3 separate regions of the Homo sapiens genome follow, and all the other regions are linked to region 1. The links come from fine-mapping of genetic effects on gene expression. A gene starts in region 1. Each other region holds a variant in brackets. All regions are shown on one strand. Distances are from middle to middle. Region 1 holds the start of ENTREP2 (endosomal transmembrane epsin interactor 2). Region 2 overlaps ENTREP2 (endosomal transmembrane epsin interactor 2). Region 3 overlaps ENTREP2 (endosomal transmembrane epsin interactor 2).

Evidence for each region. PIP is the estimated chance that this variant, and not a neighbour inherited with it, causes the effect.
Region 2: its variant is fine-mapped to the expression of ENTREP2 in thyroid (GTEx, PIP above 0.99).
Region 3: its variant is fine-mapped to the expression of ENTREP2 in thyroid (GTEx, PIP above 0.99).

The regions. Positions count from the first base shown.
Region 1 is chr15:29,566,281-29,574,464 of GRCh38, reverse strand. ENTREP2 (endosomal transmembrane epsin interactor 2) reads left to right here and starts at 3,486. Exons shown (of 11, transcript NM_015307.2): 1 at 3,486-3,960. The coding sequence starts at 3,742.
Region 2 is chr15:29,421,047-29,429,230 of GRCh38, reverse strand. All of the region lies in intron 1 of ENTREP2 (endosomal transmembrane epsin interactor 2), which reads left to right. Among named protein-coding and RNA genes, the nearest start is that of ENTREP2, 150 kb to the left of the region's middle. The variant T/C (reference allele first, on the strand shown) is at 4,390.
Region 3 is chr15:29,397,188-29,405,371 of GRCh38, reverse strand. The region is part of intron 1 of ENTREP2 (endosomal transmembrane epsin interactor 2); the gene reads left to right. Among named protein-coding and RNA genes, the nearest start is that of NSMCE3, 130 kb to the right of the region's middle. The variant A/C (reference allele first, on the strand shown) is at 3,543.

The DNA.
Region 1 (8,184 bases):
AAAATGAGCTGGGCATGGGGGCGTGCGCCTGTAGTCCCAGCTACTCAGGAGGCTGAGGCACGAGAATCGCTTGAACTCAGGAGGTGGAGGTTGCAGTGAGCTGAGATCATGCCACTGCACTCCAGCCTGATGACAGACTGAGACTCTGTCTTTAAAAAAACAAAAACAAAGAAACAAAACCCAAAAGAACAATGGTTTTGTCTATTAGTCCCATCTGATCCAGGGAGAATAAAAGCCATAACTTGGTTCCAGGGGTCTCCAAGAATCTTCTGTAACACTAGGACATGTATGATTATAATGCTTTTACAAGAGACAAACACTGAAGATCAAAGAGAGTCAATGAGTTGTCGTGATCAGTGCCAGGGAGGCTAAGCTCAGGCCAGCACCCTCTCTCCCTACCTTTCTCCTTCCCTTCTTTCTGTTCTTTTCCTCCCTTCCCTTTCATTCTTCTTTCCTTTCTTTCTTTATGATTCACTCCCATGAAATCAACTCACTTTAACTACTTTTATCTCCCTATTTATATCTCCAAATTGCAAGTGTTCATCAAGGTAACTTTGGCTGTTGCATTTAATACAACAGGATTAAAAAATTCTGTAAAACATAGTATGAAATAAAAATTTTTGGAGGCCATTGATTTGGACAGAGCTCCCACCAACAGACCAAATTAAAATGGAGTCAGTCATGCTAAAGTCCTAATCCACCAAGCTGAAACTCGGTTGTTTAGCTGACTTTATGAGAAATCAGGAGAAGGAGAGGAAGAGGGGTGGGGGAAAGACAGACACAGAGAGAAAGAGAGAGAGAGAGAGGGAGAGAGAGAGGGGGGGAGAGAGAGAGAAGAGAGAGAGAGAAAGAAGAGAGAGAATAGACAAATATCCAGAAAGGCCAGTTTGAGCAGACATGATAAGGAAGTTCCGTTTTAACCATTATGGGGAAAGTAACTTTGAAACAACTAATCTGCTTTTTGTTCCTCATTTCTACTTTCTTCAATCTTTTTCTGTCTATACATACTCACTGCCCACATGGCAGAGTGGAGTTCTCTGAACCTCTTATGATTCTGAGGGCTGCCTTATTCATGAATTGTTCATTGTTTAAGTAAACTCTGTTAAATTTATTTGTCTAAAGTTTTCATTTTATCAACAAAACTGCTTTTTCATTGATAGAAATGTGAAGTAAGTTTAATTTCTAGATCAGTCTCTCCCTTTGGATGCAAACGAAATTTTACAGCGAAAGTAGATCCCTCTCCTAACCCACCTTCACCAAAATCTCCTGCTGTATTGCTTGGAGCTCTCTTTCCGTACCTTTCTTAAATAAATAAATAAAACAAATCAATTCACATATATTTTGGAAGCATCTCTCATTCATAAATGGGAGATCACTGGAGGTCACCAACTGGCTCCCCCTTCTGTTTAATTCATCACTGACACCTCCGAAACATCTCCCAAACACACCCAATTCTCGACATCTCCACTAACCCCACTTTAATCCAAAACACTATCACCTCTTGCCAGCTGACAGTAACAGCCTCTGAACACTCTTTCACTTGGGCACCCCTCAACCCATTTTTGGTATTGTGGTCAGAAAACTCTTTTCAAATCTCCTTATCATCTGATTCCTTTTTTTTGGTGGGGGTGGGGTTGGGGGGGCACTGTGTAGTCTCCATAACACTGAACCCAGTGTGCCGCCAGTCTTCCCACTAGACCGAAAGTTCTCTGAGTACAGGGGGCTTGCAACTCATTCTTCGATCTTCAGTGCCTGGCACATAGTGGGTGTATACTATTTTTTGAATAGTATACAATGTCAATAAACTGTAATTCACTAATTTGTTAGGCTATTGTGTGTTTCTCTCTGAATCCCTTAAAGGCAGGGATTTTTGTCTGTTTTGTTCACTGATGTACCCTAAGAACGTAAAAAAAAAAAAAGCCTTATGATTAGAGAGCTCTTTATGAACTTTTGTTGGAGGAATGAATGAACGGATGAATGAATGAATGAATGAATGGGGGAGATGATCAAATGCGAACATAACTTCCTGCCAGTCCAGGGTCATGCCTTGTATTGTTTCAAGCTCTTAAAAAGTGCTGCACTGCGAACTTCTAGGCAGAAAATGTCTCCAGGAAATTGGAATTTGTACTGGAGTGCTTTAAACAATGCCGGCCAGAGGCTTAGTCCTGTTAAAGATAAGAACTGGGGGAGAAGGCAGCGTTTGGCCACGGGCCAGCATTTTGAGATCAGTCACTCTATCTGTGGAATTCCCTACCCCCTGTTCATCCCTTGGCCATCTCGTTAAATTGGAAAATAAATCCCATCCCTGCTAAAGTGTTGGCTGATAAAGGCTTGAGCTATAGCCCCTTCAAGGGGAATTTGCATTTTAATAGAGGATCGTCAAGCCCCAAAGGAATCAATATCTCTAACGGTGAAATTTCAAGCACCAGCAACCGAGATATTTTGGGACTACACTCTCTAGCGTTTCTCATCCAACAGTAAGGTCTGCTAGAAAGACACGGAAGAATGGTCTCAGGAAATGACCGGCCGTTTCCCTTTATTACTCTGAACTTTGCCTTTTCACGTCTGGTCCCTTCAGACTCCCTAACGCTGGTGATCTCTTAATCTGTCAATGCAGCCCTTTTCAACACAAGCAGAGTCTTAAAGTTGGCTCATCAACAGGGCCACAAAGGAATTATGGCAATCAAAACTTGCAGGATTTCCCGGTATTCCAAGGGAGCCAGTACTTAGATATTTTAAACTCTATGTTGGCAAGAGGGAGTGGAGATGGTTTAATCGGTTATTAATGATATTGCGCATTTAAATTCGTTTTGTGCAATTTTTTTTTAAAGCCCAAACTTTTAACTTGTATCAAAAGCATGCAAACCAAAGGTGGGTAAGGGACATCGTGTGTGTCCTGGCAATGTTCTCGGAATGTCCTCCAGAGCTGAGTTCTCTCAGCGGATGGCTTGGGAGATTCTCGAACTGCAGAAAAGCAGCATCTTGGATCTTGGATTTTTGCATTCAAGAGGCTCCTGTTCGCCACACCTGCGGCCCAGCGCTCGGAATTTCCCTCCTGTCTGCTCCCAGCCCGTCTCCCCGTCCTCAGCGCCCCGCGCGCCCATCCCGAGCCGTCCCCAGGCTCTGAAGGCTCGGCTGGCCCGCTGCCGCTATCGGGCCCCTCCGCGCAGCCGACCCAGGGCTCCGCCGCGGAGGCTGATGCCGTTGCCCTTGATGCGCTGCCGCCCCCGCTCTCCTTCCGCAGACCTGCAGCCGCCAGGGCGCGAGGCGTGAGCGCGGAGGCTGGGACGCCAGGACCGCACCTGCGCCTTCCCCGCCCCTCTCCCGGCTCCCGGGTCCCGGCTCCCGCTCCCGCCCCAGCTGGGGCCCAGCGCACGGCGGCGGGGCTCGCGCCCGGGGACGGCAGCGGCTCGCGCCCGGTACGGCAGCAGCGGCGGCGGCTCGCGCCCGCGCTCGGGCCGGGGAGCGCGCGGGGCGGGCGGGGGAGGGCGCAGCGCGGCGCGGCCGGCGGGCGGGCGGCGCGGCGGCGGCGGCATGGGCGCGGGCACCGGCGGGGGCTGCGGGCGCCCGGCTCCCCGCCCGGCCCGGCCCGCTCCCGGCGCGCGGCCGCCGCAGCCCTGGCAGCCGGCTGGGAGGCCGTCCCTGCACCCGGCGCAACTTGCCTCGGACCCTCTGTGAGGAGAGGCGGCGGCGCGCGCCGGGCCGGGCGGGAGCGGGCGAGGCGTGCGGGCGCCCGGCGCGATGCCTCCGGCCGGCGGCCCCCGAGCGCCGCGTCCCGCCGCGCTGCCCCGCAGCCTGTCCCGCCTGCGCGAGTGCCCGGGCCGCTCCCGCATCGTGCTGGCGCTCGGGGCCACGCAGATGGCGCTCGGATGCCTCATCGTGGCAGTCAGCTTCGCCGCGCTGGCGCTCACCACCTCGGCCCGCGTCCGCCACTCCTGCCCCTTCTGGGCAGGCTTCTCGGTGAGTGTCCGCGACCAGGCGGGGACGGGCTCCGGGGACTGCGCGGGCCGGGGGGGCTAGGCGCTGCGGCCGCCGGGACGCCACCGCGGGCGGCAAGTTCCGGCGGCCAACGCCGGGGCCGAGTAGCTGCAGCGCGGGGCGCAGTTCGAAACTCCGAGCAGAATAACTCCAGGGCCCGGCTCGCCGCTCTCGGAGCATCGCGTTCCCGCTCCTATTGCGCTGATTCCCGGAGTTACTTTTCTTGGAGGAAACAGCAGCCAGGCGCCCGCCGTCCTCCGAGCCCGCAGCGGCCGGAGGGAGCGCCGGGGACCGCGCGCGCCGGGGACACGACCTCGCCATCCGAGCGGCCGCGGCCGAGGCGAGGAGGTGGGAGCCGAACCCGGAGCGGAGCAGCATGTGGGCGCGCCTCTCACCCTCGCGGCGGCCCTGACCGGGGGCGGTGGGGGTGGGGGGTGGGGTGGGGGGGCGGGGGAGGGGCGCCTCCCGTCGGGTTTTGGGTCAGCCCGGATATCGGGGATCGGCCGGGCGGCCCCTGTGGTCGCTCGCTGACTTGGCTTCGGGGACTTCTGGTTTCCCGCGTCCGCCCAGAACGGCGTGGTTTGTGGGCGACGGGACTGGGCAGGCGACCCGCATCCGGCGTCCTGGGGCAGGGGGCAGGCAAGGGGGGGCGGCGTGCTTTCTGAGCTCCAGACCTTAAGGATGACCGATTTTCAGACTCTTAACCACCAAATCAGAGAAGCCAGTGGTGAACAAATCTCCATAGAAGAAAGACGTCTCGATTAAAGTGACTGTCCCCAAGAGTTAATTTTTGGCGTTTTGTAGCATTTTGATGAAAGTCGGTTTTTTTCCTATATTAACAAAGAATGGACGTTATGGGAATGGGAGAGATATATATGCAGAGCAGATATTTATGAAGAGAGGCACTTGTTCTGAGAACTCTTGACATCTGTAACTGCATTTGGTGGATCGTGCTGAAATACATCGCATAGGCTTGTAAACTCAGTATGTTTTACTTCCATCTACAGAAATCCAAACCAATCCTTTAAAACTAATGTTTGCTATTTGTTCTTGAGTTTTAAAATTTGAAAAATTCGTCCAGCTTTGCTTATTTGTTTATTTCATAATGGTCTTTGTTTTTTAAGTTCATTGCATGGCTTTTACCATAAGATCTGAGCAAAATTGCCTCTGGAACACCTCGATCGATACAGGTGTGGTTGTTCATCCTAATGGGAGTATTAATTTTCGAAGCGTATTTTAGATCAAGGGTGAGCCTTGGAGAGCTGAATAGGAACAACAGACTGTGTGGTCATAGCTGGGAGTATTCAAAGAAAAGAGAGGAGGTTGGAGGCAAGCACACGGGAGCCATGATTTAAATGCCCCTCTCTATATAGTTTTCACACATCTATTGCTCAGTTTTTACCATTATTTAATATGCATTGTTTTCATGTCTGTCTAGCGGGCACTGAGGTTTAAGTCTGCTGGAACCAGCCTACAGGTGGCAGACTGGTGAATTAGCTCCACTTCCTGGCTCCTCCCTGAGCCCGCCCTTCCTGGTTTAGCCTTGGGTTCCCAAGGGTGTGGAGAGAGAACTGCCTTTTAATAATAAACCTAAAGGGGAAAACATTAATTGGACACAGTAGAAAAGCTTATTTATGTGAAAAATGCACATCATCCCCTACATTTTAGTTTAAAGAGTTAAATAAATGTGTAAAACAGTTAATTCAGTTTGCTTTTGCAGTGTTATTCTCTTCAACAGCTCTAACCTATTCTTTTTTTTTTTTTTTTTTTTTTTTTGCCTTAAGAGGCAGGATCTCGCTCTTTTGCCCAGGCTGGAGTGCAGTGACACTATCATAGCTCACGGCAGCCTGGAACTGCTGGGCTGAAGCGATCCTCCTGCCTCTGCCTTGCAAGTAGCTAGGACTACAGGTGTGTACCACCATGCCTGGCTAATACTAAAAACATTTTTTTTTTAAGAGATGGGGTCTCGTTATGTTGCCCAGGCTGGATTCAAACTCAAACTCCTTATCTCAAGGGATGCTCCTGCCTCAGCCTCCCAAAGCACTGAGATTACAAGCTTGAGCCACTGTGCCCGACCTATAACCTGTTAGTTCTAGCTTCCTATGATTCTGAGCAATTCCACACAGTTCTCCTATGTATGGACATTACTCTAGGGTCTGGGGATCAACAATGAACACAGCACACTCTGCTTACATTTTGGAGATTATAAGATGACTTCTGTCCTGAGTCCTCCATCTCCCACCCTCCTGTCTGTTTTTTCATGGGCTTATTTTCTGTCTTCAAACTTACTTTGCTGCAAGCACCTTGAAAGTTCTTTCAGTACGGTACAGTGTATACCATTTTTCATCTGTTGTCTACAACACTTTGCAGAAATGATGATTGGTTCCTGCTGTGTTGAGACAGGTTTGCATGTTAACATGGTTGTGAGTGGGGAACACTGACCCATTGCCATATATATGCCTGCCCTCTGAGATTGGTGCAACTGCCTTGCCAAGGTTGTTCGTCATTTAAGAATGGCAGCTGGGATGGCTGGGCTGGCTTCATAAAGAAATCCATACTGTGGGGCTTAGGGCTGCCCTCTGGTTTCTCTAAATCTTCTAAAATGAGACCTATGTGCTCTTTAGCAACATATGGCTTTCTAGGCCCTCTCTGTGGTTTGCACATGGTGAAAACCCATTGTAGAAACAACTCTCCTGGATTTAAGAAACAAAATTATTAGCTAAGACAGACAGCCCATGCTTAGTGAGCACTTACTTATTGTGTGTGTAATAGCCTGTTACTCTGGTGGCCTCTGCCTGCTGGTGCTCAGGGTTTTGTGTGGTTCCCTCTCCCTGAGTTTGGACTGGGCCTCTGATTTGCCTTAGCCATTGGAACACAGCAGAACTGAGCCTGACTCTGTTCCAAGCCAAAGCCTCAAGAAATCTTGGTGCTTCTGCTGAGTAAACTAAGGGGAAGAGGGATGAGTGACTTACCCAAGGTCACTCAGCTATGAAGTAGCTTTGAACTTAGTTGCTCTGACTTTTTAGAGGCCAAACTCCTGCTAACGATTAGGCAGAAGGGGATGAAATAAAGCATGCTGGTAAAGGGGTCCACTTTAGCAAGGAGGCTCTCTCTTTCTTAGGAAAAGCATAAAACATGCCTGGAAAGGTGAAGATACAAGAGAAATTTAAGGAGCCATTCCACTGGACCAAGTTGAAGAAGTTTAAGGTTGAAAGGGGAGGACTCGGCAAGGTTGGAGACAGGGGTGGGTGTCAGGCCTGGCCGGAGGTCTGTGATGAATACAGAGCTGTGCAGTTTCCATTGTTTGAGGACCCCCTGCAGGTGGTTTTCCTGTGCCGGGCTGTGCCAGCCAGTGAGTCAGCAGGTGGATCAGTTCCCTTGTGGATAGATGTCCTGCCCATTTTGAGAGGTAATGAGCTGTGTTCATAGTTTAGAAGACTAAGAGAGCTGGATGGAGGTCTTGAATAGTTATCCTTTAATAGAGTAGTTTGTTATTTTTCTTGGAGATTTTATTAATGCCCAGAACTCAGGGACAAACAGCTACATTGTGAGTTATCCACATTACCAGTTACATATGTTGGTAAAGACGTAGCCATTGGAAGCTGACTCTGTGTGTGTGTGTGTGTGTGTGTGTGTGTGTATTTTTCCTTTAAAAAGCAACTCCACTGGATTTTTTTCATACTCTGAAATTAATATATAAAAAGTAAAAATAACTGAAGATAAAAAAGTGACTGGGCATGGTTGGCTCATGCCTGTAATCCCAACACTTTGGGAGACTGAGGCGGGCGGACCACTGGAAGTCAGGAGTTGGAGACCAGCCTGGCCCACATGGCGAAACCCTGTCTCTACTAAAAATACAAAAAATAGTCAGGTGTGATGGTGGGCACCTGTAATCCCAGGTACTTGGGAGGCTGAGGCAGGAGAATTGCTTGAGCCCAGGAGGCGGAGGTTGCAGTGAGCCAAGATCACTCCACTGCACTCCAGCCTGGGGGACAAGAGTGAAACTCCATCTCAAAAAAAATAGGTTGGGTGCGGTGGGTCACGCCTGTAATCCCATCACTTTGGGAGGCCGAGGCAGGTGGATCACGAGGTCAGGAGATCGAGACCATCCTGGCCAACATGGTGGAATCCTGTCTCTACTAAAAAAAACAATACAAAAAACTAGCTGGGCGTGGTGGCAGGTGCCTGTAGTTCCAGCTGCTCTGG
Region 2 (8,184 bases), 150 kb after region 1:
GGATGGATGGATGGATGGATGGATGGATGGATGGATGGATAGATAGACATCTCAAGATGGATGGATGGATGGATGGACAGATAGACATCTCAAGATAGATGAATGGACGGATGGATAGATAGACATCTCAAGATGGATGGATGGATGGATAGACAGATAGGCAGATAGATAATTAACAGTGCAGGCATAGGATGCAGGAGACCTATCATTTTGACAGCTAATGTAAAAATAGATCTGGGTATGTCAGTTGAGAGCAAGTTCAAAGTGGGCAGATCTCATCAGCCACCCAGCAAATCCTCAATGCTGCAAATTCTGCTGCCTCTCTGTGCAGTGAATGTTGTTGCTTGTGACACTGGTGATCCGTGACTATATTTAAAACCTTTTATTTGGCCAGCCTTAGGGATGACTGATAGCTGCATTTTTGTATTTCCTGGTTTCTAAATGGGATGCCGTTTCCTGACATTTTCATTACTCTCACTTTTGTGTGTGCTGGTGAATGGCAGCACAGGAAACCCTGCATTATGAAGTCTGTCAGTGCTGGCGCTATTTATTATAGAAATAGTGACACATTTGGAATTTGGGCATGTACTAAGAGGACTGGCCTTTTAAGTTCTGTTTCCTAATAATGTATTTAAACAATTCAGAAATTTTACTTTTTTTTTTTTGGGAAAAGAGCTTAAGACAGATGGAAAAGTGAAGCTTTAAAACATGGAAGTGGCTGGGCACGGTGGCTCACACCTGTAATCCCAGCACTTTGGGAGTGCAAGGAGGGTGGATCACCTGAGGTCAGGAGTTCAAGACCAGCCTGGTCAACATGGTGAAACCCCATCTCTGCTAAAAATCCAAAAAAATAGCCGTGTGTGGTGGCGAGCACCTGTAATAACAGCTACTCGGGAGGCTGAAGCAGGAGAATCGCTTGAACCCATGGGGCAGCGGTTGCAGTGAGCCAAGATCGAACCACTTCACTGCAGCCTGGGCGATAGAGTGAGACTCTGTCTCAAACAAACAAACATGGAAGTATGTTTTTTGAGTGTATCGGAGTCTCCACAGGGTGTCATCTTGATTCTGCTGTGGAAAGTGGACTTGGCTTTGGGTTTGACTTGTATTTTTCCCCAATGATTCTTAGACATTTCTGTTCTGTCATTTAACTTTCCACTTAAAAATGAATTCTGGGTAGGTCTAGGTACATACTGCAATATTTTATCTTAATAAATTGTCAAGGATGGTGTTTTGTTTATATTATGATATTTATCACTCTGTTGGTTTCGGACTTTTAAGGTGATGGGTCTGAAGAGTGTCCTAAAGGAAAAAGCTCCAGCCACCATGTAGTGGGTGTGATTTGGTGTTTCTCACCAGGCAGTCTGCTGGTTCTTGTTCAAAGTGCAGGTTTCTGGGTGTATAGGGAGACTCGTACCCCCAACCCCACTGATGTCCACGTCCTTCCTAATCGCTGGAACCTATGAATGTATTACTTTACATGGCAAAAGGGGCTTTGTAGATGTGGTGAAGTTATGGGTTTGGAGATGGGGAGGTTATGCCGGGTATCTGAATGGGTTCAAGGTAGTCACAAGGGCCCTCATAAGGGAAAGAGGGAGGCAGGAGAGTCAGAGAAGGAGAGGCGAGGATGGAAGCAGAACTCAGGAGTGCAGTGGGGCCACAAGCCAAGGGCTGAGGGCAGTCTCTGGAAGCTGGAGAAGGCAAGGAAAGGGACTCTCCCCTGGAGCTTCCAGAAGGAGCTCAGTCCTACCAACCCAACCCATTTTGGACTTTTGACCTCAAAAGCTGAAAGGTGATAATTTTGTATTGTTTTAAGCCACTGAGTTTTTGGTCATTGGTTGCAGCAGCAATAGGAAACTAACAGATAGGGCTATATCTCAGGTACCCCAAGTTGGACTCCGGGGGTTGGGGCTCAGGCAGTCTTCGTTTTCAACCCCGCTTCTCCATGATTCGTATGAACAGTGGAGGAGAGGAAATCATTGCTCTCACTTCTTTGAAAGTTGTTGCAGGATAACGATTAGGCCTGGAAAGCTTTGAGAATGGAAAAATAACAACAGCAATTAATAGTATATATACTCAGTGTTTATAAAGACATACACATACTTTTAATTATAGAGCAGAAATTGCTAGTTTGCTTTAAATATAACAAAATAAATCACCTAGGGTCAAAGAACAAAAAGAAACCAAGCACCCATAAGATAATAAGGTCCATCTGGAGGCCACATGGCTACAGTTTTCTTTGGCCTTCTCTCATCACTTATTTCCTGCAGACAGTAGGTCAAAGCCATCATGTTTAATTCTGATTGGACAATTCTCTTCTACTTCTGTATGTAATGCACTGCCCCAAGCTTTGGGCATCACACTGACCACTCGGCGCCCAGTGTGCATAGCATTTTGAAGTATTTGTGAATGTTTAGGATATATCACATACCAACTCCAAAAGCCAATGGAGTAAATGGCACACAGTGAAACAGAGAAATGGAATAAAACTTCAAAACAACTCTGGCTTATGACCTGTGAGATCTGAGAGGTGCCACATTGCAAAAGAAGAGACTGTCAAGTGCAGTGGAGGCAGACGGAGGACACGAAAATGTTACTGTGAGAAGGAAACCAGATGACCAACATTGGATTAGTGAATTAGGATATCACCTGGGGGATCTATTTTTCAACTGAGAGGAATGAGACAAGATGGGGAAATTAGGAGAGAAAAGCTAAAGGTCATGGAAGATACATGTAAGACGTCAGACAGGCATATAGGAGATGTTTTTGTTTTAGGTTTGATTCATGTAATAGAACATTTTCTGAATTTCAGTAATCAAAAAAAATCAAAGATAAGCGTTAAACAAGACAAAGCAGGCTACAGAAAATAATCACATTAATACTAGATTTTAATCCATAAAGTCAAATGCTAGAAGATAATGCAGCAACATTTGCATATTTTAGAAGGAACAGGTTGTTAAGCAAGATTCCTCTAGGCTTTCTGTATGCAAGATTTCTAAGCTCATGTATGTGAATGGGTACATGAAAGTGATTTTCAGAAATACAGTGGACTCCAAATTTCTGCATACCATTTCTGAATAAAGGAAATGACTTGTAGTGCACAAGCCAAATGAGGAAAATTATTATTAAATATTTAATACCTTTACTTGTTATTAAAATAAATCAATTATTTAATTATTAAAATAATCAATTATCTTTATGTAATAATTATATAAATTCAATAATTTATAGAATTATATAAATTTAATAATTATATTTAGTTATTAAAGATAAACAGGAAGCATTGGTATAAATACTGCAGAAGTAAGCAATTAAACCAATGAAACATAAAGTTAAGTTTGAATTGTTGACACTAATGTGGTTGTTTTGATAAAATCTGGGAGGCAGGTTGAGGTAGAAAATTTTGCCATGTTGCATAGAGACTATAGATATCTATGCTATTGATATATACTTATTAGATATATAATTTCAAACATAGATTTAAAATTTTGGTTAGAAAATTGATATATAATTTCCAAATCATTAGAAAAAGCAAACAACAAAAATTGAACAAAATAGCAAAAGACAGGAAAATTAGAGAAACAAAAATTAAGGAAATATAGTAAATAAGCTAGGAAATAATTCAGTTATGTTAGCTACCACGCTAAAGGTGTTACTTAATTTCCTCTATTAAAAGACAGCACTTTTAGATTGGGGTAAAAAGCAAAAATCAGATAGATACTATTGGCAAACAAACAAACACAAATAGCTTAAAATAACAGACCAGGGCATTGGCAAAGAGCTATCTGGCAGTGGCCAAGTAAAGGAAAGTAGGACTGTCCACGTATGATCAAATAGAATGCAATACAAAAATATAACTCCAAACAGGATAAAGAAGATTTAAAACTAGTCATAAAAAGCCAGGCGTGGTGGCTCAGCCTGTAATCCCAGCACTTTGGGAGGCTGAGGCAGGCAGATGATGAGGTCAGGAGATCGAGACCATCCTGGCTAACACAGTGAAACCCCATGTCTATTAAAAAATACAAAAAAAAAAACAAAAAACCTGGACGTGGTGGTGGGTGCCTGTAGTCCCAGCTACTTGGGAGGCTGAGGCAGGAGAATGGCGTGAACCCTGGAGGTGGAGCTTGCAGTGAGTGGAGATCATGCCACTGCACTCCAGCCTGGGCAACAGAGCGAGACTCCATCTCAAAAAACAAAAACAAAACAACAACAACAAAAACTAGTCATAAAAGTATAATCACCCCATTATGGTGTTTGCAGATCTGTCATCTGTCTGATGGGTTTTGATGATGGAAATAGAATGTACTGTGTCAGTAGAATTAGAAAACCATGACTTGGTCAGCAAGAACAAGATACTTGGAGACACAGACATGATAAGGCTTGCTGGTCTTG[T/C]GCCTGCAGTGGGAGAGACACTGGCGAGGATTTTGGTAGCAATTTGTGCAGAAGACAACTTTCAGAAAGACTCCAGTTGTAAAGAAAAGGAAATGTGTTGAAAAAGCTGTGAGCTTGAGGATTCCTGGGGCACTGCCTGGTGTGTCTCCTCTGCCTCATGGTTACCAACGGAATAAATAAACCAGGACTTTGCAGGGCCCCTCTCAGTACCTCTTCTCCCTGTTGTGGATGACCTGGTGTTGGGTCACTACAGGTCAAGACAGCCTTTACCTTCTCTTGTGCTCCTTTCACCTGAGAGGTTGGCGCCTACCCAGACTGGGCAGAATAGAGTCAATAGCAATATTAAAAGAGGAAGCCAAGTTGGGCTTCTGGGTCAGGTGGGGATTTGGAGAACTTTTGTGTCCAGCTAAAGGATTGTAAATGCACCAATCGGCACTCTATAAAAACACACCAATCAGCACTCTGTAAAAGGGACCAATCAGCACTCTGTAAAAGGGACCAATCAACGCTCTGTAAAATGGACCAATCAGCAGGATGTGGGCGGGGCCAAATAAGGGAACAAAAGCCACCCAGTCAGCGGTGGGAGCCCCATGGGGTCCACTTAGGTAGTGCAGAGGTTTTGTATTTTTGCTGCTCTTGGCAATAAAGCTTGCTGTTGCTCACTCTTTGGGTTTGCATTACCTTTATGAGCTATAACTCACATTGAGGGTTTGCAGCTTCCTTCCTGAAGTCAGTGAGAGCACAAACCCGTGGGAAGGAAAAAGTTCCAGACGCATCTGAAAGAACAAACTCTAGACACACCATCTTTAAGAGCTGTGACACTCACCGTGAGGGTCCACGCCTTCATTCCTGAAGTCAGCAAGACCAAGAACCCACGGGGAAGAATAAATTGCGGACACAATGTAAGCCTCATTTTTTTTCCCATTGAGATAGTCTGAATGTACATCATTGGAGGATGGGTGTCCACATACGTCTGTGATATATTTTTAAAGGAAAAACTGTGTACTGTGAACGGAGTCCTTAGAAAAAAATCAAATTTTTTTTTTGAGACGGAGTCTCGCTGTCGCCCAGGTTGGAGTGCAGTGGCGCGATATCTGCTTACTGCAGCCTCCGCCTCCCAGGTTCACGCCATTCTCCTGCCTCAGCCTCTGGCGTAGCTGGGACTACAGGCGCCCGCCACGTCGTCCGGCTAATTTTTTTTTTTTTTTTTGTATTTTTAGTAGAGATGGGGTTTCACTGTGGTAGCCAGGATGGTCTCGATCTCCTGACCGCGTGATCCGCCCGCCTTGGCCTCCTGAAGTGCTGGGATTACAGACGTGAGCCACCGCGCCGGCCCAAATAAACTTTGTAAACCAAAAAATCTAGGTATGAATACATTTAAACATTGCCATTGGTTTATCTTTGTGTATGGTGGTGTGGGTGAATTTTACATTCTTCTCTAGAATTTTTCATGTTAACTAAATTTAGCAGCATTAGGGTGTACTATTTATATGTATAGTCAGAAGAAGGAATTTTCATTGTGAAGGAAAAAAACCCTAACTTATCTCTCTCTGAATTCCCACTATAATTTCCTATGCCAGCATTTTCACTAACATGTATAGTAAACAACTGTGTATACAAGATGTTAAATGTGTATTCTGAGTTAAAAAGATTCCAAGGTCACATTTGGGGCAGGCGGGGTTATTCAGGGTTGAAGCATTTTCTTTCCTGTGGTGTGCATTTTAGCTTGACTGTGTTATTCTCATGTGCACCGTGACTCTGCATGAAAAGGGTATACTATGTCATGTTTTCAGACCTCGTTGACGTGGAACCCATTTTTATATGTGTTCTTTGATAAACTAATATTTTGTAAAACATTAAAGACACACTCACCTATCCCGAAATTATACATTGGATTCTGCATCTCAGATTCCATCTTGATCCCCTAGCCTTCTTAGGTACACCGGTTCCATTGGCCACAATGTCCCAAACTCTCTCCATACTTACTTCTAATTCCATGGAGTACAAGTTCCATCCCCCTGGATCCATCATGCTCAGGGGCTGTCTCAGCACTGTTCTTTCTCTCTTACCTAAGTTTCACACTCAAAACCTTTGTGAGTCCTTGTCACCTTCACTCCACCCTGGTCTACTCTTACAAAGGTATCTTTGTCCAGATAAATTTACTGATGATTTTGTAGGTGAGATGGTAGAGGGTGGGGGTAGGGTTACCTTGCATAGCAGAGAGCCAGCAACTTCCGACATTACAGAGCCTCAGAGTTCTTTGGCCTTACAGCCACTGGGATAGTTGTCTTGTACTCTACCCTTATTTAACACGCAAACTTGCTGACTTTCCCCCTACAAACTCCTAGAGTTTACCCTGCCGTTCTCTTTATTCAAGTCCAAGAATTTAACCTTTCTTTCTGCTCTGTAATTCAAAGTCCACTGCCATAGTGTTGCTGAGCCCCCGGAGAGGCAGGAGAGCAGATAATGGTATGTGGGGTCCCCATCCTGGGTGAGAGATAACCTGCTCAGCACCAGTCAGTGGCCATGTCCTCATTCTTTTTTTTCTTTTTTTCTTTTTTCTTTTTTTTTGACACGGAGTTTCACTCTTGTTGCTCAGGCTGGAGTGCAATGGCGCGACCTCGGCTCACTGCAACCTCTGCTTCCTGGGTTCAAGCAATTCTCCTGCCTCAGCTTCCAGAGTAACAGGTATTACAGGTGCCCACCACCATGCATGGCTAAATTTTTTGTATTTTTAGTACAGACAGGGTTCCACCATGTTGGCCAGGCTGGTTTTGAACTCCTGACCTCAGGTGATCCACCTGCTTCGGCCTCCCAAAGTGCTGGGATTACAGGCGTGAGCCACCGTGCCCGGCCCCATGTCCTCATTCTGAGTTCTCTTTCAGGCCTCCACCATGCTGTCTTTAGCATCTGGCAGGATGTTGGCTGCTGTCCAGGACTTAGAGTCCGTTACTCATGAAGTCATAATTGAAGAAATTAGCTGATGTTAATCCTTTTGGTATTTTGAGGGTAGAAACATCAGATTTGCTTTTTCCCATGGCACCATGAAAAATTGAGAGATCTGGGAGTTTTGGCTTAATTTAGGAGAGTAAGCTCTCTTTATATTAAAAGAAGTTAAATGTAAAATGATCAGCTGTTTTCCTGTAGGTTTTATAGATGCTAGTGTTACGTAGTTTGAGCATTGTAAGTTTCATATTACTAAGGAAAAATATTCATGTCTATGTGTTTTTAAAGTTAATTTTTATGTCATCTAATGAAATGAAAACATAGTTTAAAAAGTCAAATAGCAAATAGGAAAACCCAGTAGTTCCCTGCTCTAACTTGTGCAGAGGCAACTACTTTTAATTCAGCTTTTTTCCCTGGGACTTACTACGTCTCCACATTTCTAAATAAGATACAAATTCTGCTATCTTTGATTAATTGGTTGTAGATATCATTGTAGGTTTCTAATTATGGCAGTGAGGATTTAGCTTTTCATTTTCTCTCTGGTTCCCCTTCCTCATCCTCCAGAGTGGGTATGTTACAAGTTTAATTTAGTCAGTATTTGGATTTATACCTATGCAGATATTATTCACTGCAGAGCTGTGTAGAGTGGTATGTTCACTTTCACTAACTTACTCTTGAAGTCAGTACTTGCCTCGCCTTAATCAATAGCTCCTCTTGCAATAGCCTCTCAGTAATACTGACTCAGCTCAGCTCTAGTAGGTTATCTTTCTGTTCCCATTTTCTTCTCCAGGACTCATTTTCTTCTCTTGGGTTGGTGGCTTTCTAGGCCTGTACACAGCTGTCAGCCCG
Region 3 (8,184 bases), 170 kb after region 1:
TGTCACCCAGGCTGGAGTGCAATGGTGCAATCTTGGCTCACTGCAACCTCCACCTCCCAGGTTCAAACGATTCACCTGCCTCAGCCTCCTGAGTAGCTGGGATTACAGGCATATGCCACCATGCCTGGCTAATTTTTATAGTTTTAGTAGAGGCAGGGTTTCACCATGTTGGCCAGGCTGGTCTCGAACTCCTGACCTCAGGTGATCTGCCCGCCTCGGCCTCCCAAAGTGCTGGGATTACAGGTGTGAGCCACCACGCCCAGCCAGGTTTGCATTTTAAAAAGATGATTCTGCAGTGTGGAAAACAGGTTAGAAGTGACCAGGAGTCCAGGCAGGGAGGGCTTTGTAGGGCTCTTACAGTAGCTCTCCTGCCAGGTGGCAGCCAGGTACCAGGTGGAGGGAGGAACTGGGGGCCGGGGCCCAGGGTGAGCTGGTCAGTAGATGTCCCTGATTTGGATGGATTTGAGAGTGAGATTGGGTGGGGGAGGGACGTGGGGTATCTGGGACCCTGACAGGCACATCTGGGTGAGTGGGGCCTCCTGTGGAGGTAGGGCAGGCTCCAGGAGCACTGGCTGTATTGAGTTAGGCTGCTGGGGAGGCATCCGTCATGTTTCCATCAGGCCAGTGGGTGGACACAGGGATCTGGGAGGAAGAGAGGCTGAGAGAGGCTTAGGGTACCCTGGAGGATGGAGCCAGGGAGGGAACAGGCTCTCCCAGGATAGATACTGCGAGGAGGGGAGGGGAGGTATGGGGAGATGATGGGCCGAGGGAGCCCTTACTAACGAGCAGCTGGGGAGTGTGAGTGGGGGAGGAAGCAAGGGGGCGGCCAAGGCAGGAGGGTGTTCCTTCTGCAAAGCAGGAGTAAGATCAGTGTCAGCCTGCTGGGTGCTGAAGGGGGTTCCTGGGACTCAGCGACCCAGAACTGACCAGACAGGGGAGTTCTGCCTGTGCCAGTGAGGGGAAAGGGGAGCAGGACTGGGGAGTGGAGACGGCTATTACAAGGGTGCTGGGACCACTTAGTCAGATGGGGGGGTTCCCTTCATGTCACCAGCATGGCACGAGTTGTCCATATCCCTACTGTGTTTGGGGATCCTAGAAGTGTCTAAACCCAGGGATGGACATAGGTGATGAGTGAGGGGCATAGACTGAGTCCCTTTCCCAGGGTGTGTCTTTTCACCGGGGCTATCATCAGCGGGAGTGGGCGGCACTGGATGTACTCCTGTGCCCTTGCAGGAATCCAGCCTCGTGCCCCCTTCCTCCCCTGTCCTGGTGGCCCTCTGCCTCCTCTCAGAACCTCGTGGGGACAGGAGATGGGCTCTGCACTCCAGTCTCTGTGGGTGGCGCTGCCTGGTGTGAGCAGAGATGGCAGGAGGGCCACCTGGGTGCAGTACCTGCAGCAGGGAGGAGGGAGAGCAGCCTGCGGGCCCTGCAGCGGCCAGCCAGGGGCAGCAGAGCAGAGCACAGCTCCCAGGCTGGGGCAGAGGGCTGAGAGTGTGCGGATTCAGGCAACCCTTTGGGGGTGCAACCAGGCTCCCTTCAGGGTACAACTGGGCTCTCTGGGCAAGAATTCCGAGAAGGGAGCCTGCTTTGGGGCTAAGTCAGGAATGGGAGCACAGCCTCTGGGTCTGAGAACAGGTTGGTCCTGGGAAAAACCAGGCAGAGGCACCTCTAGGGAACAGTCCTGGATTTGAGAGTTTGCATAAATAGTGTGCGGTTTATGACATTAGTACAGTGGCCTTTATTCATAATGATTTGGAAAAGAAAGAGCAATTTGTCTACCAGACAGCTTCAGTTCCTATTGTATAGTTCCAGTGGATTTAAAAGTTGATGTGAGTCTGTGAATTTGCTTGCATAATTATACTCTGATAGCTTTTCATTACACATAATGCAATTTTAATGGAATTAATGTTCTGTATCAACAAATACATTGTTTTTATTATTGTGCCATGAGGAGATTTCTAAAAGAAGAGAATAAAAGTCATTTGCAAATGGTTTATGTAATACTCTTTTTCAAGCAGGGCAATCTACCTTCCCACTTCATACTTTTTTCTGACAATGGGTTGAGAAAGGGAGGGGGGCAGAGGCTCTTGAATACGTTTGGGTCCTGGTTGGAATTTATTCTTGTAGCTTGCATTTATGTCTGAAATTCTCATTATTCTCTATCAAGGAGCAGCAGCCCACATAGAAGTGTACATGGCCACCTGGCTAACCACTTTCTGTGCAGATCAGGCCCCGTCCCTCCCCTACACACCTTGTTGGTCATCCTGCCACCTTGGACCCCGTCACTGTGCAGGGATTCTGGTTTGCTGCCTCTCACTCAGACTGGCCGCCATTGTTTCCAGAGCCTTTCCATACCTGTTCTGAAGCCATCGGCCCTCACATTGAAGTGGTGGAATTTGTCTGGCCCCGTCCACCTCTCCCGCCTGCTGATGGGAACATTAGAGGGAGTTAGTACCCACTGGCATGGGTTATGCCTCCTCACTTAGGAGGCAGAACCAGCTGTCGCTGGCTTGGGTTTTAATAGTGCGTTTTCTCTGTTGTGTATCAACCATGGGAAACAGAAAAATAAAGAGGAAGCCAAAATCTCACTGTCTGGAGATAACCATGGTAACTTTGAGATGCAGCTGCTGATTTTCTTTATGTATTTGTTTGCTTCTCAGAAGGGAAATTATGCACTTTCCACACCATTTTGCAACCTGCTTTTCCTTCTTCTTCTTTCACTTAGTGTGAACGTTTCTACATGGCATTAAATATTCTCCTGTGGCTGGGCACAGTGGTTCACACCTTTAATCTCAGCACTTTGGGAGGCCACAGCGAGGGGATCACTTGAGCCAGGAGTTCGAGACCAGCCTGGGCAACATAGTGAAACCCTCTCTCTACAAAAGATACAAAAATCAGCCGGGTGATGCATGCCTGTATTCCCTGCTATTCGGGAGGCCGAAATGGGAGGATCACTTGAGCATGGGAGGTGGAGGTCACAGTGAGCTGTGATCATGCCACTGCATTCTAGCCTGGGCTACAGAGGGAGACCTTGTCTCCAATATACATATATACACACACACACACACACACACACACAATACAATATACATATATATGTGTGTGTATATATATATATATTCTTCTATAATATGATTTAATGGCAGCAACTAGGAAGGACCCAATGAATATATGTAATTCCCTCTTGCTGCACACCTCGGTTGTTTCCAGTTTCCAAAATACATAATCCTTTGGTTAATACTGGGAATTCTTAGAAGTAGAATTCTAGGTTCAATGGTATGCAGAGTTTTAAATATGCTTAACATAATACATGCATGGATTAAAGGTTAATATTACAGAAAGTTACACATTTAAAAGCAAGTTCCCCCTCGCCTCCTCCTTAATCTAGTTTCCGATTGTTAGGTTTCTTGTGCGTCGTTCCAAGAGAGCAATGTTTATGTAGTAAATGCATTCATCCATTCCTTCTTGTTTACACAGAGATCCTTCAGTGCACACTGGGCTGTGTCTTGCTTGTCAGTTATTTATCTTCGAGATCATTCCAC[A/C]GTGGCATAAATAGATCTACCTCAAACTTTATAATGCACATATTCATGTTCTATGTAAATACCGAAGTCTTTTTAACTAGCCCTTTATTGCTACTCACTGGTTCAGGTTTTTGTAGTAAACGTCCTTGTGTAAATAGGCTGGCCTGTTTCTGTTAGTATATCCACAGGTTAAATTCCCAGGATTGAAACCATTGAGTATGGGTATGTACAGTTTTTATTTTGAGAGATGCTATGAAATTGTTCCCAAGGAAGGCTACATCAAATTATGCCAACATAAGAAATGTTTAAGAGGAACTTTCTTTCCCCTCTGCCCTTTGCCATCACTGGGTTTTACCAAAACTTCACCAAAATGTTTCCAGTCTCGTTGAAAAAAATACTTATCTTATTGTTTTCACTTGCTTTAGAAAATTCAGTAGGTCTACGCATTCTGTTACATGTTTATTGTTCATTAAAAATCTAAACATCCTATTCATCGTATTCAGCCATTTTTTTCTGTTGTTTCTTTTATTAATTTATACGAGCTCTTTGTAAATTAAGAAAACCTTTTGTCTGTTTATGTATTATAAATATTTTTCCTATTTGAAACCAGCCTTTGGTTTTATGGGTTTTTTTTAACCATAAATGTGTTCATTGGCCCTTTTCAGAATAATGCTACATTAAAAACCACACCAAAATGCAGTGCTTGACAGTAGCGAGCCATTATTTTCTCCTCTGGGTTTGCAGGTCAGCTGGGGTGGCTCCACTTTGGGTTGCAAGCTTCTCATGGGGTTTGTGTCTGTGCCATCTGTCCATTCCGGGGCCCAGGCTTGAAGGGGCAGTGGCCACCTGGGCAAGGAGGAGGGCAAGAGGTAGCACGTAGTGCATCAGAAGGCCCGGGGCGATGGCATGTGCCACTTCCACTCACCACCAGGCATATCCCATGGCCAAGTTTATTCTGGGATGGGGACGGGACTCCACCCACTCTGCAGGAGCCTCCGACCTCACACGTCAAAGGCACAGACTTGTTCTTCTAATGCAGATGCAGAGAGGCCCTGGGATTGAGAACACAGATTCCTCCTACCACAAACAAATGTGGGTTTTTTTAGCCATAAACGTATACATTTTAAATTTATTAATTGTTTCTATTATGTCTTAAAATTGTGTGGTGCCTTAAAAGGCTTACTTCAAGATTCTTTTACAAATTTCTCAAATATTTATGTTTTAATTTATATTTTACTCTTTGATTTCTCTGGAATTTATTTTAATGTTGAAACGTAGAGATTAAGTTTCATTTCTTTCCAAGTGGCTAGCCAGTTGCCCTAGCACTTCTTATTGCGTAGATTTTCTTTTCCCCTTTTTGGTATTTTAATTAGAGTTGCATGGAACTTATACATTATTTAGTCTTTTTGTTTAAAAAATGAATTTCCCTCCCATCTAGTCATGAAGTCTTTTAGGTTCCCCAGTAGATGTTTAAGGATTCCTTGATATTGCTCCTGCTCACCTCTTATTAAATCTGTGTATTCTAAGATATTCTGCCTTTTTGCTTACCATTATAAATGGAATTTTTAATTGTATTCTCTTTTCTAACCAGTCTTTGCTTGCACATATGTAGGAAAGCTGTTTGTCTATAGTTTAAGAGCTTGTGTCCTAACCCTGCCCATCATTGTAACGTTGGGCAAGTCACTTAATCTCTTTGTGCTTTAATTTTCACATATGTGCACGGGCACAAGAGTCACACATACTAATTAGGGTTGTCAGGATAAAGTATAAAAACTTAGTAAGTATATCTGGCATATATTCAGGGCACAATAAATATTGATCCTGTTGACCTTGAACAACATGCGTTTAAACAGCATAGGTCCACTTATATGTGGATTTTCTTCCACCTCTGCCACCCTGAAATGGCAAGACTGAGCCCTCCTCTTCCTCCTCCTCCTCCTGAGCCTACTCAACAAGAAGATGACAAGGATGAAGGCCTTTATGATGATCCACTTCCACTTAATGAATAGTAAAATATATTTTCTCTTCCTTATGACTTTCTTAATAGCATTTTCTTTTCTCTTTATTGTAAGAATACAGCATATAGTACATACGACATCCAAAATGTGAATGTGTGTTAATCAACTGTTTATCTGATTGGTAAGACTTCCAGTCAACAGCAGACTATTACCAGTTAAGTTTTGGAGGAGTGAAAATGTTATACATAGATTTTTGACTGCACAGGAGGTTGGTGCCCCTAACACCCCTCTTGTTCAAGGGACAACTATATATAGTATTATAATTTTCAACATATTGATTTTGTAACCAGGTAACATACTGAATTTTCTTATGGTTTCTTATTCTTCTGAATCAATTCCTTTGGGTTTTCTAATTAGGTGATCACTTTATTTTCAAATAGTAATGATTTTGCTTCTTCTTTCCAATGTTTATAACTTTCTTTTATTTTTCCTTTTTAGTGTTATTAGCTAGATATATTAGTTTTCTATTGTTATGTGGCAAATTGCCACAAGCATAGCAGGTTCAAACAGCTCAACCTTATTATTTCAGAGTTTCTAAGGGTTGGGACTCTGGAGTGTTTTAATTGGGTCCTGTCCTCAGGGTCTGCAGGCTGAAATCCTGGTGAGGCTGGAAGCATCTTCATCCAAAAGCTTTACGAGGGAAAGATCCACTTCCAAACTCCTTCAGGTTGTTGGCAGAATTCATTTTGGGGGTTGTGTGACTCAGCCCTGCTTCCTTGCAAGCTGTGGGTGGGGAAGCTCTCAGCTCTTAGAGGCATCTCACCACATGGCAGCCCACTTCTTCAAGGCCAGCAGCACAACTTCTTACACCTCAAATTGGGACTTCACCAAGGGCCCAGAACCAAAGGTCTTGCCTGATTAGGTCAGGCACACCCAAGAGAACTTCCCTTTTGATGAACTCAACAGCAAACTGATTTGGGACCTCCCATCCACCATTGTCAGGCAGCGTAACCTAATCACATACATATTCACAGTCCCACCCACGGCCCAAGGGAGAGGATTACACAGGGCAGGTACACCAGGGAGTGGGGACCTTGGGGGCCATCTCATAATTCTGCATACCACACGAGTACTTTCAGAATCATTTTGTTTTATTTTATTTTATTTTTGAGACGGAGTCTCGCTCTGTCACCCAGGCTGGAGTGCAGTGGCGTGATCTTGGCTCATTGCAACCTCCGTTTCCCGGGTTCCAGTGATTCTCCTGCCTCAGCCTCCCGAGTAGCTGAGACTATAGCCATGTGCCACCACACTCAGCTGATTTTTGTATTTTTAGTAGAGACAGGATTTTACCATGTTGGCCAGGCTGGTCTAGGACTCCTGACCTCAAGTGATCCGCTAGCCTCGGCCTCCCAAAGTGCTGGCATTACAGGTGTGAGCCACTGCCCCCAGCCCTAAGAGTTCTTTTTTAAAAGAGAGGATGGAGATCAAATTCTATTGGACGTCTTCCATGCATCTACTGAATGAAAGAATTTTTCATTTTCGTCACATTAATATGCAGAACCATCTTTTCATTCCTGACGTGAACCCCCATGTTCTTCATTCTTTTAAATGTACTGCTGAATTCTGTTTTCTAACCTTTTATTTAAAAATGATGTACCAGTAAAATTATCATTTTAATGCACTGTCCTATGAGTTTTTGGCATTTAAATTTGTGTGTTTATATCTAGTATGTGTAGTAGATGAGGAATGCTAAGTTTTTGAGTCTCTGTCTTTCATGTTTGGTTTTGTTTGGATGTTGGCCCTTGAAGTCAGGGAGAACCTGCTTTGTGAGGGGAGGGAATAACTTAATGTAACTTTTGCCAAATAAATAATGAGGGGGAAGGAGTTAAATATCTGAAAGAGTCCAACAATGCCTGATACATGGGGGAAATTCATTAAATATTGATCCAGCACAGGAAAAATAAAATAAAAACAATGTACTTCTGTTTAAAAGCCACTGGTCTGTTCCTTATTTTTGTGATATTTTACAGGTTTGTGATTGTTACACTGACCTTTATAAAGACAATTTGGAAGTTCCCCCTTTTTTCCCTCTGTGCTCAGAAAAAATTTAAACAGCTTTGGAAATCTTCATACGTAGAAGTTTTTGAAGACTTTGCCTACAGCTGTTTGAGCATATTTCCAATTTCTTGGTGTTTATGGGAACAGTTAGTGTTTTGGTCTTTTGGGGAATCAATTGTAGTAATTTAGCAAGTTATCTTTGTCATCCTGGGTTTTGAATTTATTTGCATAGAGCCCATGCTTTGTTTATTATACTTTTTGCCAGTTGACAGCATCGCACCTCTTAATGATGTACATTCTCTACAGCCCTGTAAGTGAGGACCACTGTTCTTTCTAACCACTGCTAGCTTGACAGGCAGCAAGGGACCTCTTATTCCACTTTGCATTTTATTGATTACTTACTTATAAGGTGTTTTTCTGAGTAAATTTTTTTTTCCTTTTTTTAAGATGGAGTCTCACTCTGTCGCCCAGGCTGGAGTGCAGTGGCACAATCTCGGCTCACGGCAACCTCTGCCTCCTGGGTTCAAGACATTCTCCTACCTCAGCCTCCTGAGTAGCTGGGACTACAGGCACATACCACCATGTCTGGCTAATTGTTTGTATTTTTAGTGGAGACAGGTTTCACCATGTTGGCCAGGCTGTCCTCG